2 separate regions of the Homo sapiens genome follow, and region 1 is linked to region 2. Evidence: fine-mapped expression QTL. A gene starts in region 2. The other region holds a variant in brackets. All regions are shown on one strand. Distances are between the middles of the regions.

The links. PIP is the estimated chance that this variant, and not a neighbour inherited with it, causes the effect.
Region 1: its variant is fine-mapped to the expression of PLSCR1 in tibial artery (GTEx, PIP 0.99).

Annotation. Positions count from the first base shown.
Region 1 is chr3:146,467,599-146,477,920 of GRCh38, forward strand. PLSCR2 (phospholipid scramblase 2) reads right to left here and starts at 1,963. Exons shown (of 8, transcript NM_001395437.1): 1 at 1,897-1,963. RefSeq lists an enhancer at 1,952-2,021. The variant G/C (reference allele first, on the strand shown) is at 4,039.
Region 2 is chr3:146,541,091-146,551,235 of GRCh38, forward strand. It overlaps PLSCR1 (phospholipid scramblase 1), which reads right to left and starts at 3,517. Exons shown (of 9, transcript NM_021105.3): 1 at 3,377-3,517. RefSeq lists an enhancer at 3,367-3,846.

The DNA.
Region 1 (10,322 bases), 73 kb before region 2:
TAAATTTATTATAAATATATTATGGATAACACATATATAACAATACAAATGTATTTGTACATATACAAATACATTAAGCACTATGAATACAAATAATGGTACAATAAAAAGGATATGGAGTCATTGATTTAGTTGGAGTAGTGGTGGCATTGTCAGGAAAGTCAGAGCGGAGAGTTGAAAAAAGTCTAGAATCAGCCAGGCCATAGGGATGTATGAGGGGCGTGGTAGGGCATTATAGACAGAGGGAAGCTCACTAGTAGAAGTCCTAAGCTGCAGGAAACTGGGCTTATTCGGGAAATGAAAATTTATGAAATTACAGAGCCAAAGATGGACAGACCCTTAGAGATGAGGATGGAAAGGTGCACAAGGGCCAGTTCACAAATGTTTAAAGTCGCTCTACCTGCACTTTAAGACCTCAAAGGCCAGAGCTTGGTTTGTCTTATCCAAGACAAGCCACTTAATCTGTGTTTGTTAATTCAACAATGAGTGTACAGTATTATTTTGCTCTTTTCAGTCAGTAAGAATAGTTCCCTTACAGATCTGAAGGCTGCTTCATGTACAGTGAGACCCAGGTATTTTACACTTGTCTATCCAACTGCAGCAATCCACTCATTTTCCTTTGTATGTGTTTTTCATTTCCTTGTGCTTGTTCATTGCTCAAAACCCTTCTATTGTAAACATCAGGGTGGCAATAAGAGAAAGGTTTGCTCTTAGGAAAAGTTCAAGAAAGAAAGGAGCCCCCAAACCGCCTGACACTTCTAAGTGTCACTGGTACTAACCATGTATCTCAGTGTCATAAGCGGGAAGAAACAACGACTGCCTGTTCCTGCAACTGGCAAGTGGCCATGCCAAGACTTCCAGAAATAACAGTGAATGAATGAAACCACATGGGAACCAGAGAGTCAGCTTGGAGAGGCAGGGACTTTGTCAAATATTTAAAATAATAAACGCTAACTTTCACTGAGTACTTTCTGTAGTGCCAGGCACTGCTCTAAGAACTTTACATTAACACACATTAATTACTGCTCAAAAACCTTTCCTAACAACCCAGACCTCCCTCACAAATAGGAGTTTTCCTTTCTTCTTTATAAATGAGAAAACTAAGCCCATAAAGATAAAATGTTTACTTAATGCTGTACAGCTCAGTAACTAGCTGAATTGAAATTATTCATGATTCATGTCCGTTGCATTTATGTTCCTATTTCGTTGAAAAACAAACAAAAAATCTCACATTCTCCCAATGTGCCAAATTTCAGTGTAATACTCTGTAGCTCATTTAATACTTACACAATTTCAGAAATGAGGCAATGGAAAGAACATATATGAAGAAAGTGGCTGACAGTCCACAGATGTGAAGCAGTAGAGGCCGAATTTAAAGTCGGGGAGCCTGACTGGAGCTAATGGTCTTAGGAACCGCGCTACATACCGCCACTATCTTTCCTAAGCTGGTATTGTAGAGGGCCTAGCATAGACGTGGGCTCCTGGCGGACTTCATTGAATACTTACTGATAAATGACAGCTTGCAGGCTGTATTAACCGTCCCTTCTAATAGCCCCACTATGCTGGCACATGCTCCTGAGCCCAGACTCTGCCCAGGATTCAGGGCCGCTCTCTACCTGTAAAGCAGTGTAGCTAAGGGGAAGCTGAGCCCCGCAAGGCGTTTTCAGGCAGGACACCCCTTGTCATTCGAACGGTTCTGGTGTGAGCCAGGGTACAGCTGGGCCGCCTGGGGCCCCTTGCCGAGTTTCCGTTCCACTTCAGGTGTCGCTTCCCGCGGCCCATTGGGCCCTTGCCCCGCCCTCTGACGCAAACACAATTATGGGGCGGAGCATCGTCCCCACTAGCCAGGCACACCCCAGTCCCATAGGGAGGCGACTGAGAAAGCCGCCCCCTTACCCGTGGCTGCAGCTGCTCCCGCACAGCCCTGAGCGAGCCGAGGTCCTAGCGTGGCTTCCTCCCGTCTGCCCCGTGACTGCCAGGCACACCTGTTGCACAGCCCTCCCGGAAGTCGGCGGAAAAGGGGCCTGGACCAGCCTCAGAGTCTACACCTGCAGCAGCCCCTAGTTTAGGTTTCTGGACCCCAAGGGTACAACAAGGCTTCCCTCCCCTGGTCCCTGCGCGGGCTCAGAGGATCCGGCTTTGCTGCTGGAGCGCGGCCGAGCTGGGGGCGCGACTGCACCCACCCCCCCACGCCGTGTGCGACGCGCAGCTGCCGCCCAGCCCGTCCCGTCTCCCTCTCCCCATCCCCGTCCCCTTTTTTGCTCTTTGGAGAGACTCCGGAAACGTTTCTCCGGTGGTTAAGGGCACAGATGAACTGGGACGTCGACACCAGCTGGAACTGGAAAATCATCAGGCGGGGAGTGGCCTACCCCGGGAACTTCCTTAACTCTGCTCTTGACCTCCATCCCTTAGAAGCCTGTAGCTTTTCAAGGTGAGGGAGCTTAGACTACAAAAGAGGAGCGGTCGAGATTATTTTATCTCTAGCCCTTGCCCTTCTCCCTTTTCTTTCCAACAAAAGGCATTTTTAAGTTAAGAGTGAAAATGATGAGGCGTGTAGAATGTTTAATTTTTCAGGACGCGCCTTTGATTTTTCAGGGTGTGCCTGCAACTGGCACACCCTCATGCAATAAATAAATACATATTGCACTGACGTTTCTACTGATTTTTTAAAAATTTATTTACACGCCTGAAACCCTAGCATTTTGGGAGGCCGAGGCAGGCGGATCACCTGAGACCAGGAGTTCAAGACCAGCCTGGACAACATGGTGAAACCCCGTCTCTACTAAAAATACAAAAATGAGCCAGGTGTGGTGGTGTGCCCCTGTAATCCCATCTACTGGGGAGGCTGAGGCAGGAGAAAAATCGCTTGAACCCGGAAGGCAGAGGTTGCAGTGAGTCGAGATCCAGCCACTACACTCCAGCCTGGGAGAGAGAGCAAGACTCGTCTCAAACAAACAAACAAAAACACATGATCTTCCAAACAATAACACCATATATGGAGAAAAATGAAACCTCACCCTCTCCATTCCCGGTGCTGTTCTCCCGATTACCCTGCTAACCAAGGTTGACACAAACATTTGAAGACACACTAAGAGAGGTGGGGGGAGGGAAGAAAAAAGGGAATGGAAGGGAGGAAGGTGGAGAAAGAAATTGAGAAAATAAGATAGAAAAAGGAAGAAGGAAAATCGAGCTACCTGAGTTTGAATTCTTTCTTTTTTACTTCCTGTGCCTGTGACTTGTGAAAATTACTTGACAATCTCTTTGCCTGTTTTCTAATCGGTAAAATGAGAGTAGTAATGGTATCTACCACAGAGGATTTTTATGATGATTAAGGAAGTTAAAATATATAAAGAATTTAGAATGATGTTTGCCATAGAGTAAGCGCTCAGTAAATGTTATATACATACAAATAAGTATATACACAGCTACACAGTGTTTTTGTTTTTTTGTTTTTTTTTTACATAAAGAGGATTATTTTATACAGCTCTTCTCTGATGTGTTTTTCACCTAACAGTGCATCTTGGAAATCTCTATCCCTCTAATACAGAACTGTGTCATTGATCTAATAATCTAGGTACTGTTTCCAAGTTTTATCAATTATAAATTGTGCTGTAGTCATCATCTTTGCACATATCTTTCTGTATACAATAAAAAAAACATTTTATTCTTTTACCAATAAGTCATGGGATTTCTAATTTTTCCACACCTCTTCGATTCTAGAATACCAATTCTAAATGTTTCCTACTGTGAATGGCAAGCATTATCTTATTTTTTGTTTGTTGATTCTGATTGTTAATGAGATTGAGGACTTTTTCATATGATTACTAATTATTTTACAGTTTTATTCTGTGATTTGTCTGAAATATAATGCTCATTTTGTTATTGTTGTTGGATTGGGATTTTTTTCCCTCTTGCTGATTTGTTAGTGGTCTTTATATATTGTGGGTATGTTAAATAAGATACAATTCTTTTTTTTTTTTTTTTCTGAGACAGAGTTTCACTCTGTTGCCCCGACTGGAGTGCAGTGGCACGATCTCA[G/C]CTCACTGCACACTCCACCCTCCGGGTTAAAGAAATTCTCTTGCCTCAGCCTCCCAAGTAGCTGGGATTACAGGCATATGCCACTATGCCCTGCTAATTTTTGTATTTTTAGTAGAGATGGGGTTTCCCCATGTTGGCCAGGCTGGTCTCAAACTCCTCACCTCAGATCCACCCACCTTGGCCTCCCAAAGTGCTGGGATTGCAGGCGTGAGCCACCATGCCCGGCCAAGATACAATTCTTTTGCCTACTGTGTCTCTGGCTTGAAACTTATTTAAGGTTGCTTTCACCACACAGAAATTTTTATTTTCAGTGATTTTTACTTTTATTTTTTCATTTTGACTTCTGGTCTTTGAATCTTATTTTAAACTGCCTCTTGTACCCAGGACATTTTTATGATTTCTTCCTTTACGTCTATTCCTTATTTCCAAGCAGTTGGGAATGTCTAGTTGTCTTTTTATTATTTGTAATTTTATTGTAGTGCAAGCACATGCTGTGTATGGTTACAGTCATTTGAAATTTTTAAGACTTACATTATGACCTTCTGGTTCACAGCCAATTTTTATAAATATTTTGTACGAGAAATAGGTGTATTCTGCAGTTGTGTACAAGTCATGTATTTTCATTCTAATTGGCTGTGTCAGTTAGTTTTGCTGTTGCTTTAGCTAATATTTGGTTTGATTAATCTATCAATTATTCAAAGAGGTATTAAAATTGAGAAAGTATCTATTTACATTTAGACTTCTTTTCATGTAGTTCATTAGGGCAACTAAAAGAAAATACCATAGTCTGGGTAGCTTATAAACAACAGAAAGTTATTTCTCATAGTCCTGGAGGCTGACAAATCCAACACCAAGGTGCCAGGAGATTCAGTGTCTGCAGAAGGGCCTACATTCTAACACATACATGGCATCTTCTCACCGGGTCCTCACAAAGTGGAAGGGACGAGGGATCTCTCTAAGATTGTATTTTTCTTTCTTTCATTTTTTTTTAAAAGGTATTAATCCCATTTATGAGAGTTCCATTCTCGTGACCTAATCTCACAAAGGCCCCACCTCCTAATATGTCACATTGGTGATTAGGCTTCAACATATAAATTTTGAGTGGACACAAACATTCAGACAATAGCAACATCTGTCTTAGCTCCTGTTGCAACAGCAAAATGGCATAGTCTGGGTGACTTAAACAGCAGACATTTATTTCTCACAGTTCTAGAATTTGAGAAGTCCAAGGACAGGGAACCAGTAAAATCATCATCTGTTGAAGCCTCTCTGGCTTGCAGACAGTCCCTTTCTTGCTGTGGCCTCACATGGCAGAGAGAGAAAGAGCTCTGGTTCTTCTTCCTCTCCTTATAAGGACACTGATCCCATCATAGAATTTTTAACCTTTCCTTAATTTGGCATCACCAATCCCTCCTTTTCTCTGGGGTACTGTAGAAATAAATTGGATCTCCTTATTATATCTGTCTAGACACCCTTTGTGACTTCCTGTGTCTTGCAAAATGATTTGCCACATCTGCTTTTTTTCATATTCTCAAATTTGTTGAAATCTTATGCCCTGCTATATAATCTCATCTTTTTTTCATCCTTGGTTTATTACAGCTTTGGGTTTTGTTTGTTTTGACTATCTTCACTTTTATTGTATTATAGTCCTGAAGAAAAGTACTATCTTTTTTTTTTTTTTTTTTTAAGACAGAGTCTTGCTCTGTCGCCCAGGCTGGAGTGCAATGGCACGATCTCAGCTCACTGCAGCAACCTCCACCTCCCAGGATCAAGCAATTCTCCTACCTCAGCCTCCCATAGTTGGGATAACAGGCACCTGCTACCACGCCTAACTAATTTTTGTATTTTTAGTAGAGATGGGGTTTCGCCATGTTGGTCAGGCTGGTCTTGAACCCCTGACATCAGGTGATCCACCCACCTCGACCTCCCAAAATGCTGCGATTACAGGCATGAGCCACTGCGCCTGGCTGAAAAGTACTATCTTAAATTAGAAAACATCTAGGTATAACATAAACACACTGTTGGTTAACTAATCAAAACTCAGTATCTGCTCTTACATGGTAAAATAGTGGTTTTCAAATTTTAGTATCCCTCAGATTCACCTGGAAATCTTGTTAAAACTCAATATGTGTTTCCCACATCCAGAGTTTCTAATTCAATATATTTGGAACGGGGCTTGAGAATTTGCTTTTCTAATAAATTCCCATGTGACGCTCATGATGGTTTTCCAGGGACTTCACTTTAAGAACCATTGCTAAGTGTTCTATTTTGCTCAGTTCTTGAAGAACAATATGTTCTTGAAAGGAATGTCCTAACCCAAAGAACAAATATTGGTTAATTGTCAGTCATAATGAATCCAGCCTCCTTTCTCTGTTATTGGTATGCATTTGGTTATATTACTTAGATTTGGCTAAAGAAGAGTCATATTGAGAACTTCTAGGAAAGAGTTTCCTGCTTACTTTTGTATATGTATATTAATATGTATCTGTGATGTGCATAAGTACATGTACACACACAGCCCATATATACACTTATGTGAAGACTGACTTGTGGTTATAGAATCTATGAGGGTATTTATTTTTGTTCTTTCCACAATTTCTTACTCAAAACATGCTATCTTTTTTTATTGTTGTCCTCTTCTGCATGGAGGGTTTTATTTCTTTTCAATAGCTCCAAGATTTCCACGGCACCAAGGGGGAAAAGGTATAACACAGCTTTATGGGAAACAGTAGCAGAAGACGATTTCACTTTGCATCATGGTTCTAACATGTGGGTTAAAATTCTGGGTTGGAAATTCTTTTTTTTAAGAATGTTGAATATTGGCTCCCACTCTCTTCTGGCTTGTAGAGTTTCTGCTGAGAGGTCTGTTTTTATCTGATGGGCTTCCCGTTGCAGGAGACCATGCTGTTCTCTCTGGTTGCCCTTAGTAGTTTTTCCTTCGTTTCAGCCTGGGAGAATCTGATGATTATATGTCTTGGGGTTGATCTTCTCGTGGAGTATCTTAATGGTGTTCTCTGTATTTCCTTAATTTTCATGTTGGCTTGTTTTGCTAAGTTGGGGAAATTCTCCTGGATGATGATATCATGAAGTGTGTTTTCCAACTTCTTTTCATTCTCCCTGTCTCCTCCTCGTACTCCAATCAATCTTAGATTCAGTCTTTTTATAAAGTCCCATATTTCTTGGAGGCTTTGTTCATTCCTTTTCACTCATTTTTTCTCTATTCTCGTCTGCATGTCTTATTTCAGTAAGGTGCATTTCAAACTCTGATATCCTTTCTTCTGCTTGGTAGATTTGACTATTGATACTTGTGTATGCTTCATGAAGTTCTTGTGCTGTGTTTTTCAGCTCCATCAGGTGGTTTTTGTTCCTCCCTAAACTGGTTATTCTAGTTAGCAATTCCTCTAATCTTTTATCAAGGTTCTTAGCTTCTTTGCATTGGGTTAGAACATGCTCCTTTAGCTCAGTGTAGTTTTCTATTACTCATCTTCTGAAGCCTACTCCTGTCAATTCATCCATCTGATCCTTTGTCCAGTTCTGTGCCCTTGACGGAGAGATGTTGCAATCATTTGGGGGGAGAAGAGGCACTCTGGCCTTTTGGGTTTTCAGCATTTTTTCACTGATTCTTTCTCATCTTCATGAGTTTGCCTAGTTTCAGTCTTTGAGGCTGCTGACCCTTGCATGGGGTTTTTGTAGGGGCCATTTTGTGGGGGCCATTTTTGCGGGGGTCATTTTTGTTGTTGTCAGGTTCCTTTTCTGTAGGGCTGCTGCAGTTTTCTGGGGGTTCACTTCAGGCCCTATTCATCTTACATTCCTACTTCTTTACATGCTTCATAACTTGTTGAAAACCATATATTTAGAATAATATAATATGACAACTCTGGAAACTGTATATGCCTCCTCCCCAGGCTTTGTTGCTGGTGGTGTTTTTCCTATTGTGCATTTGGTTACTTTCCTCAACTAATTATATTAATCTATTTTCTTCATTATGTGTGACCACTGACATCTATTCAGTTAGCATAGTAGTCATTCAATAAATGGATATAGTTTTCCTTAAATATGCTGCATAAGTGTATCTCCCAGCCTTTTCCAAAAGGTCCTTTTTGTGTTTGGGGACACTATTTCAAAGATCCAATAGATGATTTACGGTATTGGCTTAGCTTTCTCTCACTGCTTGCACAGAAACTTAAGGTCAGCCAGACGAGAGAGATTATTTCTTTTTCAGGTCTTTTCTGGGTATGTGCACAGTTCTGTACGTGCACATTTCCTTCTAAATTTTCAGGAGTATGTCAGAACTTTTAAAAGCCCCTATTAATATCTCATTCCCCAGATTTTCTTTTTAAGAGATTTTGGTCAGCTTCTTCTATGCCCCAACTATTATTAAGGCCTCACTCAATTGTCATGTTAAACAATTACCACTAATTATTTCCCAAAACTGTTATATAGCGGGGGCGCCGGGGGGTGCACTGGGCCAAGAAGGCTGACAAGAAGCAGCTGCAATCAAAGGCTCCCACCAAGAAGAACGAAGACAGTGTGTGAATCCTGCACTGGGAACCGAGGTACCCTCAGGTTCTATCAGGACTGACTAGGCAGTTGGTGTGACTCACAGAGAGTAAGGAAATGCAGTGTGGTGCATCGCCTCACCTGAGAGCCACATGGGGCAGGGGGAGCTCCCATTCCCCAGCCAAGGGAGGCGCTGAGTGTTCATGCTACCCAGCCTGGGGATCTGTGCTTTTTCCATGGATCTGTGCAACCCATGGATCATGAGATCCCACTTGTGAGCCCATGCTACCAGGGCCTTGGGTCCCAACCGCAGAGCTGCATAGATTCTCAACAGCTACTCAGTTGGCATCTGCCTAGGACTACTGAGCTCCCAGGGGGAGGGGAAGCCTTCATCACTGCAGCTGCCTGCTGCCTAAGACAACTGAGCTCCCCAGGAAAAGGACAGCAGCCCTCACTGCAGCTGCTAGCTGCCTAAGATGCTGAACTACTGGGAGGAAAGGGCAGTAGCCATCACTACAGCTCCAGCCCACTGTATTTCCCCGGCTGGTGCCTGGGAGACTCAAAAGGCACTCCCCATAGTACAGCACACCAGCTGTGGCAGATCACGACCAGACTGCCTCTTTAGGGCAGACCCTGATGCATCCCTCCTTACTGGGTGGGGCCTCCCTGCAAAAACTTCAGCCACTCCAGCAAGGGGCTTAGGGCCAAAATTCTGGTCTCCCTGGGCCTGAGCCCCTAGGGGGAAGGATAGTCATGGTCTCCATGGACCAGCTGACTTAGTCTTTCCCCCTGGTAGCTCTGAGGAATCCAGGCAGCCCAGATGAGTGGGATTCCCCTAAGAACAGCACACCTGTTGGACCAAGGGACAGCCAGGGTACTTTGTTAAGTGGGTCTCGGATCTCATGCCTCCCAGCTGGGTGAGAACCCCCGCAAACAGAGGTCACCAGACACCTTATACCAGAGTGTTGCTGGAGTTCTGTTCCAAGATGGCCAAATAGGAACAGCTCTGGTCTGCAGCTCTCAGCGTGATCGATGCAGAAGATGGGGGATTTCTGCATTTTCAACTGAGGGACCTGGTTCATCTCATTGGGACTGGTTGGACAATGGGTGCAGCCCACGGAGGGTGACCCAAAGCAGGGCAGAGCGTTACCTCACCTGGGAAGTGCAAAGGGTGGGGGGATTTCCCTTTCCTAGCCAAGGGAAGCCGTGAGAGACTGCACCTGGAAAAAGGGACACCGTGGCCCAAATACTGCACTTTTCCTATGGTCTTAGCAACCAGCAGACTAGGAAATTCTCTCCCGTGCCTGGCTCGGCACGTCCCACACCCATGGAGCCTTGCTCACTGCTAGTGCAGCAGTCTGAGATTGACCTGCGAGGCAGCAGCCTGGCTAAGGGAGTGGTGTCAGCCATTGCTGAGGCTTGACTAGGTAAACAAAGTGGCCAGGAAGCTTGAACTGGACAGAGCCCACCACAGCTCAGCAAGGCCTACAGCCTCTATAGATTTCACCTTTGTGGGCAGGGCATAGCTGAACAAAAGACAGCAGAAACTTCTGCAGACTTAAACACCCTGTCTGACAGCTCTGAAGAGAGCAGTGGTTCTCCCAGCACAGCATTTGAGCTCTGAGAATGAGCAGACTGCCTCTTCAAGTGAGTCTCTGACCCTCGTGTAGCCTAACTGGGAGACACCTCCCAGTAGGGGCTGACACACACCTGATACAGGCAGGTGCCCCTCTGGGATGAAGCTTCCAGAGGAAGGATCAGGCAGCAATATTTGCTGTTCTGCA
Region 2 (10,145 bases):
GATGAAACTGAGGTGACTGTGGCTGATTATAAATGCAAAGTACCTTGTAACAAGGAGCCATTCCATAAAAATCCTCTTGTGTATTTTATGCTGAACAAACAAAACAAATATGCTTAAAACCAGTTTAGGATAGCCTTTTATAGCATTTTATATTAAACCTTGAATAAAAATGTAGATGATACATCAACTAGGACCAAGTGAGATGGTAGTGATCAAGTGTTCTACAAAACTAAAAAGTAAACCAAAGAGACAAAGGAAACAAATACTGAATCAGTTATTCTCATTTGATTGCTTTACTACTCTGAAAAGCCTTTCCTGACAACCCAGAGCTCCCTCACAAATTTGCTTCCTTTCCTCCTAATAAATGGTGAAACTAAACCCATAGAAATAAAAGTGATTTTAATAAATGTGATACAGCTTGCTAACTAGCTGAATTAAGATGATTAATAATTCATATTCTTTGCACCGATGTCTCTAATTCACTGAAAAAAGGAAGACTGACATCCTTCAGTGAAATTTGTTAAAAGACTCTTTTAAGGTTATCTTTCTTATGTAAGACAGAAAAGGCTTGAATTTCAATTTACTCTTGTGCCACTTAGCTTTAACTAGGCCAGGTGCTATGGTTAGAATGTGTGAGCTAAGTTCATGTGTTGGAAACTTAATTTCCAATGCAACAGTGTTGGGAGGTGGAGCCTAATAAAATATGATTAGTTTATAAGCACTCTACCTTCATGAATAGATTAATGTCGTTATCTTGGGAGTGGGTTTGTTATTGCCAGAGTAGGCTTGTAAGGAAATCAAGTTCCACTCTCTCTTGCTGTCTTGCCCTTCCACTTTCCACCATGGGATGATGCAGTAAGAAGACCCTCACAAGATGCTGGTGCCTCCATACAGTCATGCACCACAACAACAGATCACATATATGATGGTGGTCCCATAAGATTATTTTTACTGTACCCTTTCTATGTTTAGATACATAAATACTTGACATTGTATTATACTTGCATACAGTATTCATTACAGTAGTACATGCTATACAGGTTTCTAGCCTAGGAGCAACACCTTATTCCACACAGTCTAGGTCTAGTAGGCTATCTGCCACCTCACTGGTCATTCCTTTTCTTGAATGAGCCAAGTTCCCTCCAGCCCAGGACTTCTACCTGTGAGGTTCCCTCTGTCTATAATGCCCTCCACCAACCCACTCACCCACACGTCTATAGACTAGTTGATTTGAGACTTCCCTCAGCTCTCAATCTGACTCTCCTCAACACCCCCAACCCCACCACCCCAGCCTAAATAGTAGGCTGGCTATAGTATCCAGGATTGTGTAAGTAAATTCTATGACGTTCTCACAACCACAAAATTGCCTCATGATGCATTTCTCAGAATGTATTCCTGTATTTAAGCAACACATGATTATGTTGGACTTCCTAGCCTCCAGAACTGTAAGAAATAAATTTCTGTCCTTTATAAATTACCAAGTCTCAGGTATTCTTTTACAGCAGCAGACAACATATGGAGACATCATTTTTTTCTAATCACTTCTTAAAAGAACATATGGAAAATTGAAGAGTGCAACTATTAAGTTCTGATTAAAAAGTGTTTTGGTTTTTTAATTTAGCACTATTCAGGGCAGTGCAATACAGTGTGTATATACACAGATACACATATATACACATAGAAATTCTTCCTATATAAATATTCACTAAATATAAAGCTTGTGTGGTTTTAAAGGAATTAATTGAAGGCATAGAGCATGCAAGGCACTATACCAGGCACTAGAGCACAATACCTAGACACTAGGGGAGACAGACAATTAAGAATTAAATATATTATTAAAAATACTCTAAGTGCTATAAATAAAATTAATGTTGCTATAAGAAAGGGTTATGGGGCACTAACTTAGATGGTGGTAGGGGGTTTAAGAAAAGTCAGACTAGGAGATGAAGGAAGTCTCAAATCAACTAGTCTATGGAGGTATGGTGGGTGGGGTGTTGGAGGGCATCATAGATAGAGGGAACTCCATAGGTAGAATTCCTGAGCTGGAGGAACGTCCCTCATTCAAGTAAAGGAAGACGAGTGAGGTTACAGAGCAAAAGAGGGAGACATTCTTAGAGATGAAGATGGAGAAGTACATAAGGGTCTGCTCACACACATCTGATGTCTCTCCACCTGTATGTACTCTAAGCTCCTTTACAGATCTAAAGGCAGTTTGATCTATAAACCAGCTATTTTACATGCCACTTTTCTATCCAATTGCATAAATCCACTCTTTCCCTTTATATGTCTTTTTCATTTCCCCGCATTTTCTCATTGTTCAAAGCCCTACTATTGTTGTAAACAGGGTGGCATTAAGACAAAGGTTTGCTCTTAGAAAAAGTTCAAGAAGGGAGCCCCCAAACTGTCTGACACGTTTAAGTGTCACTTGTAGTAACCATGTATCTCAATGTGATAAGCCAGAAAAAACAACGACTGCCTGTTCCTGGAACTGGGAAGTGGCCATGCCAAGACTTCCAGGAATAACAGTGCATGAATGAAACCACCTGGGAACCAGAGAATCAGCTTGGAGAAGCAGGAACTTTGTCAAATATTTAAAATAATAAGAGCTAACTTTCACTGAGTACTTTCTGTAGCGCCAGGCACTGCTCTAAGAATTTTACATTAATACTCTGTAGCTCATTTAATAGTTACACAATTTCAGAGATGAGGCAATGGAAAGAACATATATAAGAAGAAAGTGGCTGACAGTCCACAGACGTGAAGCAGTAGAGGCCGAATTTAAAGTCGGGGAGCCTGACTGGAGCTAATGGTCTTAGGAACCGTGCTAGATACCGCCACTATCTTTCCTAAGCTGGTATTGTAGAGGGCCTAGCATAGATGTGGGCTCCGGCGGACTTCATTGAATACTTACTGATAAATGACAGCTTGCAGGCTGTATTAACCATTCCTTCTAATAGCCCCACTACGCTGGCACATGCTCCTGAGCCCAGACTCTACCCAGGATTCAGGGCCGCTCTCTACCTGTAAAGCAGTGTAGCTAAGGGGAAGCTGAGCCCCGCAAGGCGTTTTCAGGCAGGGCACCCCTTGTCATTCGAATGGTTCTGGGGTGAGCCCGGGTGCCGCTGGGCCGCCTGGGGCCCCTTGCCGTGTACCTGCTCCACTTCCAGGGTCCCTTTCAGAGGCCTCTTGCATTTCTGGCCCCAACCTTCACCCCACATCCTCCACCCCCAGAGCAGCAAACACAACCTGCGGGCCCTCGCGCCGGTTCCCCACAAGTTGCCCTCCACACCTGACCCCGGCCCTGGCCCCAGCGCAGGCTCCGCGCAGTTCCCGCGCCCAAGTCCCCAGGAGGCGGCAGAGAAAGCCGCCCGCGCACCTCTGGCTGCCGCTGTTTCCGCTCCCGAGCGAGACAAGGTCCAGAGAGCCGGGGCCAGGCGATGGCTTCCTCTTCTGCGCCTCTAGACTGCCGGGCACAGCTGCTGCGCAACCTTCTCAGAAGTCAGCCGGAAAAGGGTCTGGGAGTAACCTTTGCGCCAACACCCGCGGCTCCTGGTTTCGTTTCCTGAATCTTACGTACACAACACGGTTTCCTTTTCCCGGTTCCCGCGCTGGCGCTCGGGGACCCACGAGACTACTGGAGGGTGAAGGAGCTGGAGGAGGGACTGCGCCCACCCCCTGGTGTGAGGCCCCTCCCCTACCCCCGACTTGCTTTCTTGCTCATTGGAGAGACTCCAGAGACGTTTGTCCGGTGGTTAAGGAGAGGAACTGGGACTCCGACACTAACTGGAACTGGAAAGTCATCAGCTGGGGAGTGGCCTCCCCCGGGAACTTTCTTTACTCTGGCTTTGACCTCCATCCCTCGGAAGCCCGTGGCTTTTCAAGGCGAGGGAGTAGAGGCAGCTTAAGACTACAAATGAGGAGGGGCCAAAATTGTTTTTCTTTATGGTGCCTTTTCTTTCTTGCTGTCTTGCTCTTTCTTTCCTTCTATTAAATTATGTGATATTACTTTTTAATTTTTAAGCAGTTATTTGAATGTTTTCGAGCTCACTTTATTTTTTTATAAATATTGTTCCTTTTTAAACTAAAATAGTTTTTATTCTGTGTATTTAAGTTATTTGTATGACATATCCATCAACTCCTATAATTACACATTTCCCCCCTTGGGGCAAGAGCAGCTATAATCTACTTATTTAGCATAAATCCTGAATACCACTATCATTAACTATAGCCCTCATGTTGTACATTAGGTCTTCCCATTTGTTCATCCTACGTGTTTGTAACTTTGTATACTTTTACCTAAATTTCCCCATTTCTCCTGACCCCACTCCAACCTGGATGACCCTGGATAAACCAGTGGTCCCCAACCTTTTTGGCACCAGGGACCAGTTTCACGGAAGAGGATTTTTCCATGGACCAGGGCCGGGTGGCAGACGGTTTCAGGATGATTCAAGCACATTACGTGTATTGCGCACTTTACTTCTATTATTATTACATTGTAATATATAATAAAATAATTATACAACTCACCATAATGTGGAATCAGTGGGAGCCCTGACCTTGTTTTCCTGCAATTAGAAGGTCCCATCTGGGAACGGTGGGAGACAGTGACACCAGAAGTGTGTTGCTTATGTCCAGTCTACTCCGTAATCTTGTTTTGGTTGCTGTCACTGCAGAAAATCCTGCTTCACAAAGATAGCATGTTGGAAATGGAAGCAGACTCTTCAGTGCTTTTGTGGCAATCTCAGGATATCCCACCTTGAGTTTAATCCAGAACATGGGATTTGAAGCTGTCTCAAACATACTTTTAAGGCCACCATCATTTGTGATCTCAAGCAATTGATCCTCTTCTAGTACGGACAAAATCGATTCACCTGACTTACTCACAAATGGGTCATGGATACATTCATTCCCAGTTCAGGGTTCTTTTGTGGTTGGGTAGTAATGCTCGAACTCTTTTGAAAGCTAAGATAGGTGATCATGCATCAGCTGAGAGAAAGAAGCTGCTGGCTCAGTCTTCTTCAAAATCTCTGCTAATGTTTGAAACATGTCAAAAATCTCAATGTTCATTCGTTGCCCCCATAATTCCAGTTTGGCTTTCAATGCAACCAATTTATCTGCTTCCTTGAACACAGTTGTCCTTCTCTCCTGAAGCGACAAGTTGAGTTCATAGATCGAGTTGAATACATCACACAAGTAAGCAAGTTTTGCAACCCTTTCTGTGTCACTGAAATGTGCCGCCAATGGTGACTGATTTTCTAAAATAAATCTCTGGAGCAGCTCTCATAATTCAAAAATTTCAGCCAGTGATCTACTTTTAGAAAGCCATCTCATTTCTGTGTATAAGAGAAGACATGCATGCCCAGTGTCCATCTCCTCACAGAGCTGCACAAACAGATGTGAGTTAAGAAAATGTACTTTAATGTGGTTGATTATTTTTGTCACATCCTGCAAAACATTGTTAAGTTCAGGTAACATTTTTCAGCTAGCCAGCATTTTTCTGTGGATGACACAGTGCATAGACTCACATTCTGGTCTCTTTGACCAGAGTAGTGAAACCAGAAAGCCATCCAGTCATGGCAGCCACTCCTTCCATGCATATACCTACACAAAATAACCAATTCAGTTTTCTTGATATGTAATCATTCAAAGACAAATAGTTCTTCAGCTGTGGTTTTGATTGGCAACAAAAATTCACATAATATATCCTTGTGCACATCTTCCTGAAAAATATATCACACACAAAAAAGCATTGTTGCTTTGTTGTCAATATCAGTAGACTCATCAACCTGGATTGCATACCAATTGCTAGAGAGGATTAATGGTGACTCATTAATCCTCTCTAACAATTGTACCTCGATATTCTCTGCTATTTCATCAATTCATCTAGTTATGGTGCTAGCCAGAAGAGGAATATGTGCTATTTTTTGAACTGCAGCCTCTCCTAAAAGTTCCCAACAAATGTCCTTAGCAGCAGGCAGGATCAATTCTTCACCAATAGTAAAGGGCTTCTTAGCTTTAGCAATGCAGTTAGCCACTATGAATGATGCTCTCAGTGCAGACACATTTGATGACATGGTGGCCTTCAATAATTGCTTCTATGTGTTCTTTGTGTTCATGGTTTCATGGTTTCTGTTTTTTTTTTAAACAAAACAAAACAAAAAACTCCAAAGGCTTGTCTTTTAATGCAGAGTGCTTGGTCTCCATGTGGCAAAGTAGTTTTGCAGGTTTCATGGCTTCATTGGGCAGTTGGTCACCACATATTATACAAAGCAGGATTGGAGAATGTGAACCACCTGTTGCAATGAACCTGTAATTTAAGTAGGACTCTTGGCATTTTCCTTTAAGTGCAGCTTTCTTTTTGTTAGCAGTCTTAGAGTCTTCTGTTATCTCACCTTTGGGTTTTTCCCCATTTTCAAAGAAGCTGTCCAGTGATGTTTGTTTTTCACTCACTTTGATGTTTTTAACAAAAACTTTTTTTTAACAAAAACCCTTGTTTTTCACAAGGGTTAGCTTGTGGGCTTAGCAAAACTGTGACTAAGACAAGTGCACAGTGTGGAAAAGAGGTGCAGATGGAAGTGGTAAAATAATGGGTGGGCCATGCACAGACTAAAATAAGTGTTGGATTCTGACTTAAAGCCTGCCACCAGATGCAACTGTACAATTGAAGTACATCAATTTTCCACTATAAAGCCTGCCTCCAGACACAGCTTAATTGTCACTTGTCATTTGCCCCTCACTGATAGGGTTTTGATATGAGTCTGCAATCAATGTATTTATTATGGTCTCTGTGCAGTCAAAACTCTCTGCTAATGTTAATCTGTATTTGCCGCTGCTGCCCGATGCTAGCATCACTGCCTGAGCTCCACCTCAGATAATCAGGCATTAGATTCTCCTAAGAAATATGCACCTAGATCCCTCACATGTGCAGGTCCGTGGCCTGGGGCTTGGGGACCCCTGCTATAAACCACTATTGTATATATTTGACCTTTTCTTAATTTCATATAAGTGAGATTGTGCAAAATTTTTCTTTCTGTGTCTGGCTTATTTCATTTAGCATAATGCCTTCCAGGTCCATCCATGTGATAGCACCTGGCAGAATTTCCTTCTTTTATAAGGCTGAGTAATATTCTATTTTGTGTGTATCTGTGTGTGTGTATACACACAACATGGAATATATGTATCTTTATTTATACAGTTGTCTATTGATGGACACCTAGATTATTTCTATTATCTTGGCTATTCTGAATAATGCTGCAATGAACATGGGAGTGCGGCTATCTTCAGGAGACGGTGATTTCATTTGCTTTTGGTATATACCCAGAAGAGGGATTTCTGGGTCATATGGTAGTTCTACTTTTAATTTCTGTAGGAACCTCCGTACTGTTTTCCATAACGGCTGCACCAGCCTACATTCCCACCTACAGTGTACAAGGATTCTCTTTTCTCTACACCCTTGCCGACACTTGTTATCTCTTGTCTTTTTGATAATACCAATCCTAACAGGTATGACGTAGTATCTCATAGTGATTTTGATTTGCATTTTTCTGATGAATAGTGATGCTGGGCACATTTTCATATACCTGTTGGCTATTTTTATGTCATTTTTGAAGAAGTGTCTATTCAAGTCCATTTCCCATTTTTAAATTGGGTTATATGTTTTCTTGCTATTGAGTTGTATAAGTTCTTTATAAATCTTGGAAACTCAACCCTTTTCTGAGAACATGATTTGCAGATATATATTTTTCCAATCTATAGGTTGCCATTTCATTTCGTTGATTGTTTCCTTTGCCATGCAGAAGTTTTTGGTTTGATGTAGAAATAATATTGTTAAAATGTTCATACTACCCAAAGTAATATATAGATTCAATGCAAATTTGTATGAAACCACAAAAGACCTCAAATAGCCAAAGCAATTCTGAGAAAAAAATTGAAGCTGGAGAAATAACACTTCCTAATTAAAAATTATATTACAAATTTATATAAAACAGAATGGCACTGACATAAAAACAGATATGTAGACCAATGGAACAAAATAGCTCAGAAATAAATCCAAACATACACGGTCAACTAATTTTTCACAAGGGCCCCAAGAGAACACAATGAGGAAAGGATGGTCTCTTGAATAAATGGTGCTGGGAAGACTGGATTTTCACATACAAAAGAATGAAATTGAACTGTTGTCTTACACCACACAAACAAATCAAAAACAAAATGGATAAAAGACCTACATGTAAGACCTCAAACCGTTAAACTCCTGGAAGAAAATATAAGAGAAAAGCTCCTTGACATTTACCTTGCCAAAGATTTCTTGACTATCACACCAAAAGCTCAGGCTACAAGAACAAAAATAAATAAATGGGACTATACCAAATGATATTTTAAATATGTTTTGAAATCAAACCAACCAGATTTGTTTAGAATGTTTATTTTTCCAGCCCTGCAGCTGGCATAGAGACATGTAATAAATAAATATTTATTGAACTGAAGGAATAATTATTTTCCTTTAAAATTTGTTATTTACAAAAGTAATGTGATTTTTTTCCAAACAATAAAGCTGCAAATGCAGAAAAGAAGTGAAATCTTGTCCTTTTCACTCCCTAGTTTTATTCCCATTATCTTGCTAACCAAGGTTAACACATGTTTGAAGATTTACTAAGAGAAGTGAGAGGAGAGAACAGGAAGGTGGAAAAAGAAATTGAGAAAACATGGTGGAAAAAGGAAGAGGGAAAACTGAACCACCTAGGTTTGATCTCTTTCTCTTCAACTTACCATCCCTGTGACCTCATGAAAGTTACCTGACAGCCTCCGTGCCTCTTTTTGAAATCTATAAATGAGGGTAGTAATAGTATCTACTTCATAACATTTTTTGAAACTTCAGAAAGTTAAAATACATAAAAGGTTTAGGGTGGTGCCTGCCACAGGGTAAGCATTTGCTTTGGGTTTACCTTCCTGACTAATGGACTTCTGCTGCAAAAGGGCAGGAGACAGTAGAAATCCAGTAGCTTTCATTTTCTATATTTTTCAACCTCTCCTTCCCTGATGAATAGTGTATTTTGAATCCCAAAACTTTTCTGCCAATTTTACACAGAAGAAATCTATCCTTTGCTTAGGGTGGTACCACATTCTCTTTGTGGAGGTAGTAAGTTAGGCTGGGTGAATTGGCTTGTGAATAGACCTTCAAGCATCCTCAATTTACTTGCTAATTTATAACTTTGTCTTTTTATTTGACACCACTAAGTCCTCAGCCTCTTTGGATTTCTGTGGAGTTAAGGTGGATCTCCTGAATCTTATTTTCCTTTTTACACACTTTAGGTTGTGACTTTCTGAGTCTTGCAAAATCAGTTTCACTTTTGCCTCTCCCTTCCATTTTCTCAAATTTGTTGAAATCTCACTTGCTACAGTAAATTCTCATCTTTTCATAGTCTGTGTGGTGTTTACAGCTTTTGGGTTCTTTATTTTGTTTTAATTGTCTTCATTTTCATTTTATTATAGTCTCTGATGAAAGGTACCATCTTTAATTAGAAAACATCCAGATACCATATAAATTATTGTTTGCCTAAATAAAACTCAGTATTTGCTTTGACAGAGTAAAATAGTGCTTCCCATATTTTAACATGCATAAGTATCACTTGGAAATCTAATTAGAACTAAATTTGCAGAGTCCCGCCTTTAGTCTTTCTGATTCAGTAAGTCTGGGATGTGCTTTGAGAATTTGCTTTTCTAACAATTTTCCGTAGGGTGCTGATGATTCTTTTCAATAGACCACATTTTAAGAAGCATTTGCTGAAAGAACTCTATTTTTTTCAGGTATTGTGTAACAGTGCATCATAAGAGGAGGGTCATAGCACAAAGGATGAATTTTGAGTAATAGACAATCATAGTGATTCTATTCTCCTTTGACTGACTTGTATAATTGAGGGCATATGCAAATGTAAGCAGTAAACCCTTTCCTAGAAGCCCTCAAGAAGAGGGCTTTTGTGTATGTGTGTGTGTGTGTGTATATATATATATATATATGCACGCATACACACATAAATACACATGCAAGTGTATAATATGCCTCTTTCTCTCTTATATAAGGCAGTGACATATGGAATTATGACAGTTATCTTCAGATCACAGAATATGGGAGAACAAGTCTTAAG